2 separate regions of the Homo sapiens genome follow, and region 2 is linked to region 1. Evidence: fine-mapped expression QTL. A gene starts in region 1. The other region holds a variant in brackets. All regions are shown on one strand. Distances are from middle to middle.

Region 1 (4,000 bases):
AGACAATAACCAGGTCATCCAAAATATCTTACACCTTTGTTTTATTTACCAGCCCTCCTCCCCCACTACAGGCGCATTACCCAGCTTCTATTTTCACATGAGAAGCCCATTTCCTGTCTTAAAAGTAAAGCTGGATTTTCACCCCTCGGGAGAAAACCACCCATAACAGTTGTCTTTTCTCAGTTCAAAAAGGCAAGATTATTAAACAGTGAGAGTGTGGAAGGACAAAAGGACAATGTTCAGGCCACCACTTCACCCAGAAGAAGAATGCCTTTTGTTTTCTGAACTTTGAAATCTGATTTCCCTTTCCTATCCTCACAACTTACAAAAGAAAAAAAAGGAAAAGGGCCGACGCCTGTAATCCCAGCACTTCGGGAGGCCGAGGAGGGCGGATCACCCGAGGTCGGGAGTTTGAGACCAGCCTGAACAACATGGAGAAACCCCATCTCAACTAAAAATACAAAAATTAGCCGGGCGTGGTGGCGCATGCCTGTAATCCCAGCTACTCGGGAGGCTGAGACAGGAGAATCGCTTGAACCCAGGAAACGGAGGTTGTGGTGGGCCGATATCGCGCCACTGCACTCCAGCCTGGGCAACAAGAGCAAAACTCCGTCTCAAAAAAAGAAAAAAAAGAAAGAAAAGAAAAGGAAAGAAAAAAAGGAGAGGGATGGTGGGGGCCCTACTACGCAGGACTATTCCGTCCAGAATTTGCATAGGCAGGTTTTATTTTCATTCATATGACCTTCTGAGCCAAAGCAGAAGGATATGGCCACGTTCTCTAGCCAGACTGCCCAGTGCAGAGGAAGTAAATCTGTTTCTGGTCTCCACTTTTGAGCTTCCATTAATGTCACAAACCAAGACATACCGCCTCTCCTCTCCTGCGTTGTGACCCATCTACCAACTTCATTCTACAGGGGGAGAGCGAGCTATACGTACACACACGAACGTGCGCACACACACACACTCACACTCCCTCTCTCTGGTCAGAGTAAACACAATTGCGACCCAGAATTCCTGCTTACGCTACCCTCCCGTTCTCACGCAATTTATTACTAAAACCTCCCAGGAGCCAATTAAGTTCGAGGAACCGGACAAAGTCCCTTAAAAATCAAGTAGGTGCAGGGCCCATAGCCTGAGGCTGGTCCCACCCTGCCCGGATACCCGAGTCCGGCTGAGACCAAGTCGCCATGCCCACTCTCGGCGCCGGAGCTTCTAGCCTCCAGGGGCGGCCAGCGAACAAGTGCTACTTCCCTGGCCTTGACCCACCCTTACAGCAAACCCCACCCCGCCCTCCGTCCCGATGGCCCCACCCCACTCCCAAGTCCAGGCCTCACACCACGCCTTCTCGTGCCCTCAACCCTGCCCAGTCCATCCCACCCCGGAGCCAGCTTTCCTCTCGGCCCCGCGCGGGGCCCCTCCCTGTCAGGCCCAGGGCCGGGCTCTGGCGGGAACCCCGCTCGGCCCCCGCCTCCTGCACCTCAGCACCATCCCGTCGCCCCATAAGCCTCGGCCCCGCGGCGCTGCAACCCTCCCTTCTGGGAAAGGAATGTGCCCGATACCCACTGCTTAGCTCGGCGTCCGCCGCTGCCTCCACAGCAGGCCCTAAGCCCGAGTCCCGGCCTCGCCGCCGCCACCGCCGGCCGGCCTAGAGCTCGGAGCCTCCGCTTACCTCCCCGCCCCCTCCTGCTACCGCACTCGGAAACCCGCCCGCCGCAAACACCCTAGGAACAGTTTCTCCAATCAACGAGCCGAGGCCGGGGCCGTCGACGGATGTCCCTCTGATTGGCAGCAGAGAGGGCCCAATGGCTGAGTGTACCTCCTCATCCCCGGACCTGATTTCCCAAGACTGACATAATTCCCGGCCCAATGAGTACCTAGGCCCGCCCCGCGGTATGGACCCACCAATGAGGAGGGCGAAGGCCCTAGTGTCTGGCATTCTGGGCCCCTCGGCCGCGCCTTCGCGGCGGGCGATGTTAGTGGGCTTGGGCGTTGGGTGAAGTATCCAGGTTGGGCGCTTCCAGCGCTTTCTGTGGCGGGGGAATGAAGGCCTAGGTCAGGGAATAGGAAGGTGTATCGCCGCCAGAGTGCGGAACACCCTCGCCTTGAGGGTTCCCACAGTGACTTGCAAAAGTCTAGTGAGACCCGAGAATGCTGAGGCGGGACACGAAGCATGTGGTTCTTGTGGTTGCGACGCTCGTGCCGCCATCTTGGGTGCTGGCGGCGGAAACCGGTACCCCAACTTCCCCTCGGTGCGAACCTGGAGAAGCCACCCCAGCTGTGAGGGACGGTTGCGCCTCATGGCCCAGGCAAGGGTACCTTCGCTGGAGCAGTACCGCGGACGGATATCATGAGGGTGGTGGGACGTTGGCGGAACGTTGGCGGAACGTTGGCGGTGTGAGAGGTGTGGGGTAATGGCGATTTTTGTCATGGTAGAAACAGCCCAAAGGACCCCCCTCGTTTGGCCTCCCACGCAGCTTAGTCTTGCTTTTTTAGGGATGTTTCTCATTTTTTAATTTCTCCAGTCCCATCTGGTTATATTGCCAAAACATGTTTGTGACTCTCAAACGTTAGTTTACTCCCAGCATCACTTGGGGAGCTTGCTAAGCTACGAATTCCGAGGTCCCACTGGAGAGTCTGATTTAATGACCCTGGAGTGGCGGCCGGATAACCTGCCTGCTGGGGTGATTTTAACGCAGCTGATGCGAAGACCCCATTTAGGGAATCATTGGGTTGGCGTTTGCAATGCGTTCCTCCCAGCTATAGGACAAAGAGGTGTCAACTCAACTGTGTCTTCTTAGAAGAGCCCATTATTTATAGGTGAGTCATTAGTCCCTGTACAACTAAGGACAAGGCCAACTGATAACTCAGTAAATAATCGAGTCCATTTTGTGCTTGCGAGTTAGGGGCTTAATTTGGGGTGGTTTGCAGATTAAGTACTTTCACTGCATATAATAAACGTACACCAGCAAACCACTCATGGAATTCTTAAAAAAACTTCTGAGCTAGTTTACCAGTTTCAAAGACTAATTCAGAGAGCATGTTTTACCTATTCTAGGCTGGACTGGAACTCCTGGACTCAAGCGATCTTTCCATTTATCAGGGACTACTGACGCGTGTCTCCCAATAAATACCTGAGTATAAACAACATGAGGACTAGAATTTTGTGCGTTAACTGTTATAACTTAGTAGACACTCAAATACTGAGTACTTGAAGGGGGACTCAAGCAGGCAGGCCTCTGATTTTCCTGTTAAAAGCAGAAATTAACCACACCTTGGAGGATGTACAGTTTTGAAGGATATGGCATGTTAACAATAAAATAGGAGACCATTCAGTCCCCGAAGTAGTGAGACAATGAAGATAAAGACTGGTATTGTATAAGAAAGGAGGAATATTTAGGTGTGGCCATCAACTCTAAAAATAAATAAGGTTGAGAAGGAAGTATTTTAAACATAGAACTGGGCCCGGCGCAGTGGCTCACAGTAGCACCTTGGGAGGCCGAGGCGGGAGGATTGCTTGACCAGCCTGGGCAGCATAGTGAGACCCCCGTCGCTACAAAAAAACAAGCTGGGCTTGGTGCCACACATCTATAGTCCCAACTACTCAGGAGGCTGAGGTGGGAGGATTTCTTGAGCTGGGAGATTGAGGCTGCAGTGAGCTATGATGGTGCCAGTCTGGGCAACAGTGAGATGCTTCCTCAACAAAACAAAACATAAAATTGAGAGATATAAAGGCTCAACTACAGTGTTTAACTACAAGACAATTTTGAGAAGGTGAAAAGAGCATACTAAAGTTGGTCTTTTTTTGACAGAAAAATACAGAACAATTTTCAGTCCTAACAGTTCAAACTAAAACTGGACAATCGTTTATCTGTGGAGTTTCCTGCTTAGCCATTTCACAAAGGTGGGCAGAAAAAGGGAAAGAGTTGCAAGGGCCGAAGAGAGTAAAGGTGTAGAGACAAACTCAGTCGCAACAGCAGGCCTAGGCCTGGCAGGGTGTGGG
Region 2 (4,000 bases), 83 kb before region 1:
AAAAGGAGACTTGGAATTGTCTTTCAGAGCAGAATCTTCTCTGGAATCCACGTCTATTGTTTATTTTTTGTCTTTTTTTTTTTTTCTGAGACAGAGTCTTGCTCTGTTGCCCAGGCTGGAGTGCAGTGGCATAATCTTGGCTCACTGCAACCTCCACCTCCTGAGTTCAAACAATTCTGCTTAAGACTCCCGAGTAACTGGGATTACAGGCGCCCACCACTACACCTGGCTGATTTTTGGTTTTTTGTTTGTTTGTTTGTTTTTGAGATGGAGTCTCGACTCTGTTTCCCAGGCTGGAGTGCAGTGGCGCAATCTTGGCTCACTGCAACCTCCCCGTCCCCGGTTCAAGTTATTCTCCTGCCTCAGCCGCCCGAGTAGCTGGGATTACAGGCGTGCATCACCACACCCAGCTAATTTTTGTATTTTTAGTAGAGACGGGGTTTCACCATGTTGGTCAGGCTGGTCTTGAACTCCTGACCTCAAGTGATCCACCCACCACGGCCTCCCAAAGTGCTGGGATTACAGGGTGGCTGAGCCACTGCACCCAGCCAATTTTTGTATTTTTATAGAGACGGGGTTTCACCATGTTGGCCCGGCTACTCTCAAACTCCTTAGCTCAAGTGATCCACCCGCCTCAGCCTCCGAAAGTGCTGGGATTACAGACATGAGCCACCACTCCCACCCAGCTACTTGGTTTTTTTCCTATGTGCTGAATCTCCAAAATGAGACAGAACCAGAAGCAAGGCCTTGGAGTCAGCACATTGAAGAGTTCCTCTTCAGGCCTCGGGTTAGTTAACAACCCATGTGTCCTCCACTACAACACCTCCCAGGTAGGGGCTGAGGAAATGCTCTGAGGAGGGCTCAAGTATGGATACAGGGCTCCCTGTTTCCCTTTCCTGTTGTCTGTACCTAGCACTCAGGTTACCTGCATATTAAGAGGCAGCAAAACATAGTGATTAACAGCATAACATCTGCAACCAGACAGCCTGGGAATAAATCTCAGTTCCCTGTCTACTGTGCTCTCTGGAGCAAGTTATTTGACCATTTATGCCTCAGTTTCCTCACCTTAGAAGGGATATACTCTATTCACTGTATCATTAGGTGATTAGGAAGATTAAATGATTTAACATGTGTAATGGTACTTGGAACAATGCCTGGCACATAATAACTGTTCAATAAGGGTAGCTGCTATTATTGCCTGATTTCTCTACAGGAGAAATTTTGAAAGACAGGCAACTGGCCGGGTGCAGTGACTCACGCCTGTAATCCCAGCACTTTGGGAGGCCGAGACGGGCAGATCACGAGGTCAGGAGTTTGAGACCAGCCTGGCCAACATGGTGAAACCTCATCTCTACTAAAAATACAAAAATTAGCCGGGCATGGTGGCATGCACCTGTAATCCCAGCTACTCGGGAGGCTGAGACAGGAGAATCGCTTGAACCCGGGAGGCGGAGGTTGCGGTGAGCCGAGTTCGCGCCACTGCATTCCAGTCTGGGCGACAGAGTGAGACTCCGTCTCAAAAAAAAAAAAAAAGAAAGAAAAAAGAAATCCCTGTTCAGAGAAGCCCTGGCTTGGTGGTAGCCTGCCTCTCCTCTGTAATGAACATGTTGCAGCACTGGAGTAAGACGCCCATCTCACATCACAAAAGAGAAACCAGGGGGCAAACAGGGATGTTAGTGGGCTCTAACTTACTCAAAAAAACATAGATCTTATACCAACTATTCATTTCCAGATTATCTGATCCAAGAGTAAAAAGAAGAAAACAGTTTTGTGTATGATGGATAACTGCATGGAATGAAAAGGGGAAATTTTAGGTTTAGGAGGAAAAAAAAACCCAAGTGAGATAAAGGCAATATAGTAGTGTCCTTAACGTCCCCCTACCCTTCACACAGAG[T/A]GCTAAAGGAGAAGGAACCACTAGGTGGCAGCATATGAGCAGGTGAACCAAAGAGAACCAACTGCCTCCAGTTTTAGGAGCCTTTGCACCAATCCCATCCCACAGGAAAGGACAATGGGCAATATTCTAAAGTGTTTAACAGAGGGAGCAAACACAAACCCTTCTATACTCCTCCTCTGCCACCCACCTCTCCCCCACTCCTCCATCCCCCGCCCATCCTTCCCTGGAGACCCAGGGACCCAAATCTGAAAAGCTGGGTGGCTAAGAGGCCAGAATATCATCGTGCCACCACTCTGTGGCTGAAAGACATCAGAAAAGGGGATACCAGAAGAGAAAGGGCCGGGATCTGGGACAGGATGAGGCTGAAAAAGGAAAAGGTCAGCTGGGTGTGGTGGCTCACGCCTGTAATCCCAGCACTTTGGGAGGCCAAGGTGGGTGGATCACGAGGTCAAGAAATCAAGACCATCCTGGCCAACATGATGAAACCCTGTCTCTACTAAAAATACAAAAATTGGCCAGGTGTGGTGGCGCATGCTTGTAATTCCAGCTACTAAGGAGGCTGAGGCACGAGAATCGCTTGAACCTGGGAGGCGGAGGTTGCAGTGAGCCAAGATCACACCACTGCACACCAGCCTGGCGACAGAGCAGGAAAAAAAGAAAAAAAAGAAAAGAAAAAGGTAACTTCTTCACTCCCTACAGAGTTCAATGCTCTCTAAATCATATGGCCATTGGCTTCCAGCATTTAAAATAAAATGTCCCTTCTATACCTGTTTTCCAAGAGGAAACAACCACTTGCCAAACTGCAAAGGTCTTTGGGTACCGCCACACACCCCACCGTAGGGACCACACTCAGATCTCTGGCCCTTCTAGCTGTGAAACTCAGCAGAAAAAGAAATTAGGTTGGTCCTAAAGTATATAAACAAATTACCTCATTGGAAATCTGGTCTGTAGTTCTGGCTGTCTCTGACATTGTTATATGCAAAAAAAAAAAAAAAAAAGCGCGGCAGGGGTTGGGTAGAGCATGTTTGATGTGTTGATGAGACAATCTACAGGCTGATGGACATTCTCTGCTAGGGGATAGTTCTAAAGGAGACTTTTTGGAAGCAGCAGATTCCTACAGCGTTGGAAACTAAACCTCACCCAGCAAAACTGCTCCACACCCAGTTAGCCCCCATCTTAGCCAACGGCCTCAGATGGCAACAGGCTAATTAGATTACCGCTCCTCTGTTTGGCTCTACTAACCAAATCCCCACCTCACTGCCTGCCACTAACTGGATAACTGGGGCATTAGACCGCTTAACTAACCACATTATATGTAGGACGGCTTCTTAATCACTACCAATTGTTCTGGCAAGTGAAATAGGAGAGCAGTGGAGATGAAAGGCTTTTTTCCTTGATTTTATGTAAAAAGAAAATTTAAAAGCTAAAATCCTAAATTTAAGAAGTAAATGTATAATCATTGACACAGAAAGTACTGACTCCCAGTCGATAATCTAACCTGGGGCTGGTACAGTTTGGCCTGAATTGTCCAAGCTGGTATCCAAGAATACTAAATGCTCCGAAAGCAACATTTCAGCTACATTTCATTAAAAATACGTTTTTCTAGTGTGTTTTCCCTGTCATCCACATAGCAAAATAGCATAGATATTGTTTTGCAATTACCTCAATATTAAATTTTTCCATATGATGGCCTGGTATATCTCTTAGAAATCTGTATTTAATTCAAAGCCAACTATATCTTTCTTGATGGTGAATAAAAAATGGGAAAGAGGTGAGAATTCCTATTAAGTCTCATTCCCTAAACCCGGGTTGATTTTGTTTTCAACTAGAGTAGTGTCAAAGGTGGGGTTGACAAGGTGCCCTCCCTCCTGTTTGATTTTTTTTTTTTTTGAGACCTACTCTCCCCTCTGTCACCCAGGCTGGAGTGCAGTGATGCGATCTCTGCCTCAGCCTCCTGAGTAGCTGGGATTACAGGTGCCCACCACCATGCCCGGCTAATTTTTGTATTTTTAGCAGAGACAGCGTTTCACCATCTTGGCCAGGCTGGTCTTGAACTCCTAACCTCGTGATCCACCTGCCTCAGCCTCCCAAAGTGCTGGGATTACA

What was found. PIP is the estimated chance that this variant, and not a neighbour inherited with it, causes the effect.
Region 2: its variant is the best candidate, but not a certain one, in a credible set for the expression of NFE2L1 in blood mononuclear cells (TOPMed, PIP 0.63).

What each region holds. Positions count from the first base shown.
Region 1 is chr17:48,046,026-48,050,025 of GRCh38, reverse strand. It overlaps NFE2L1 (NFE2 like bZIP transcription factor 1), which reads right to left and starts at 1,667. Exons shown (of 6, transcript NM_003204.3): 1 at 1,564-1,667. It overlaps NFE2L1-DT (NFE2L1 divergent transcript), which reads left to right and starts at 1,973. Exons shown (of 2, transcript NR_170231.1): 1 at 1,973-2,401; 2 at 3,056-3,145. It also overlaps a transcript of COPZ2 not described here. RefSeq lists a silencer at 1,258-1,537 and enhancers at 1,088-1,689, 1,948-2,187, 1,690-2,291, 2,258-2,447, 2,292-2,895.
Region 2 is chr17:48,129,326-48,133,325 of GRCh38, reverse strand. No RefSeq gene overlaps it. Among named protein-coding and RNA genes, the nearest start is that of SNX11, 24 kb to the right of the region's middle. The variant T/A (reference allele first, on the strand shown) is at 1,895.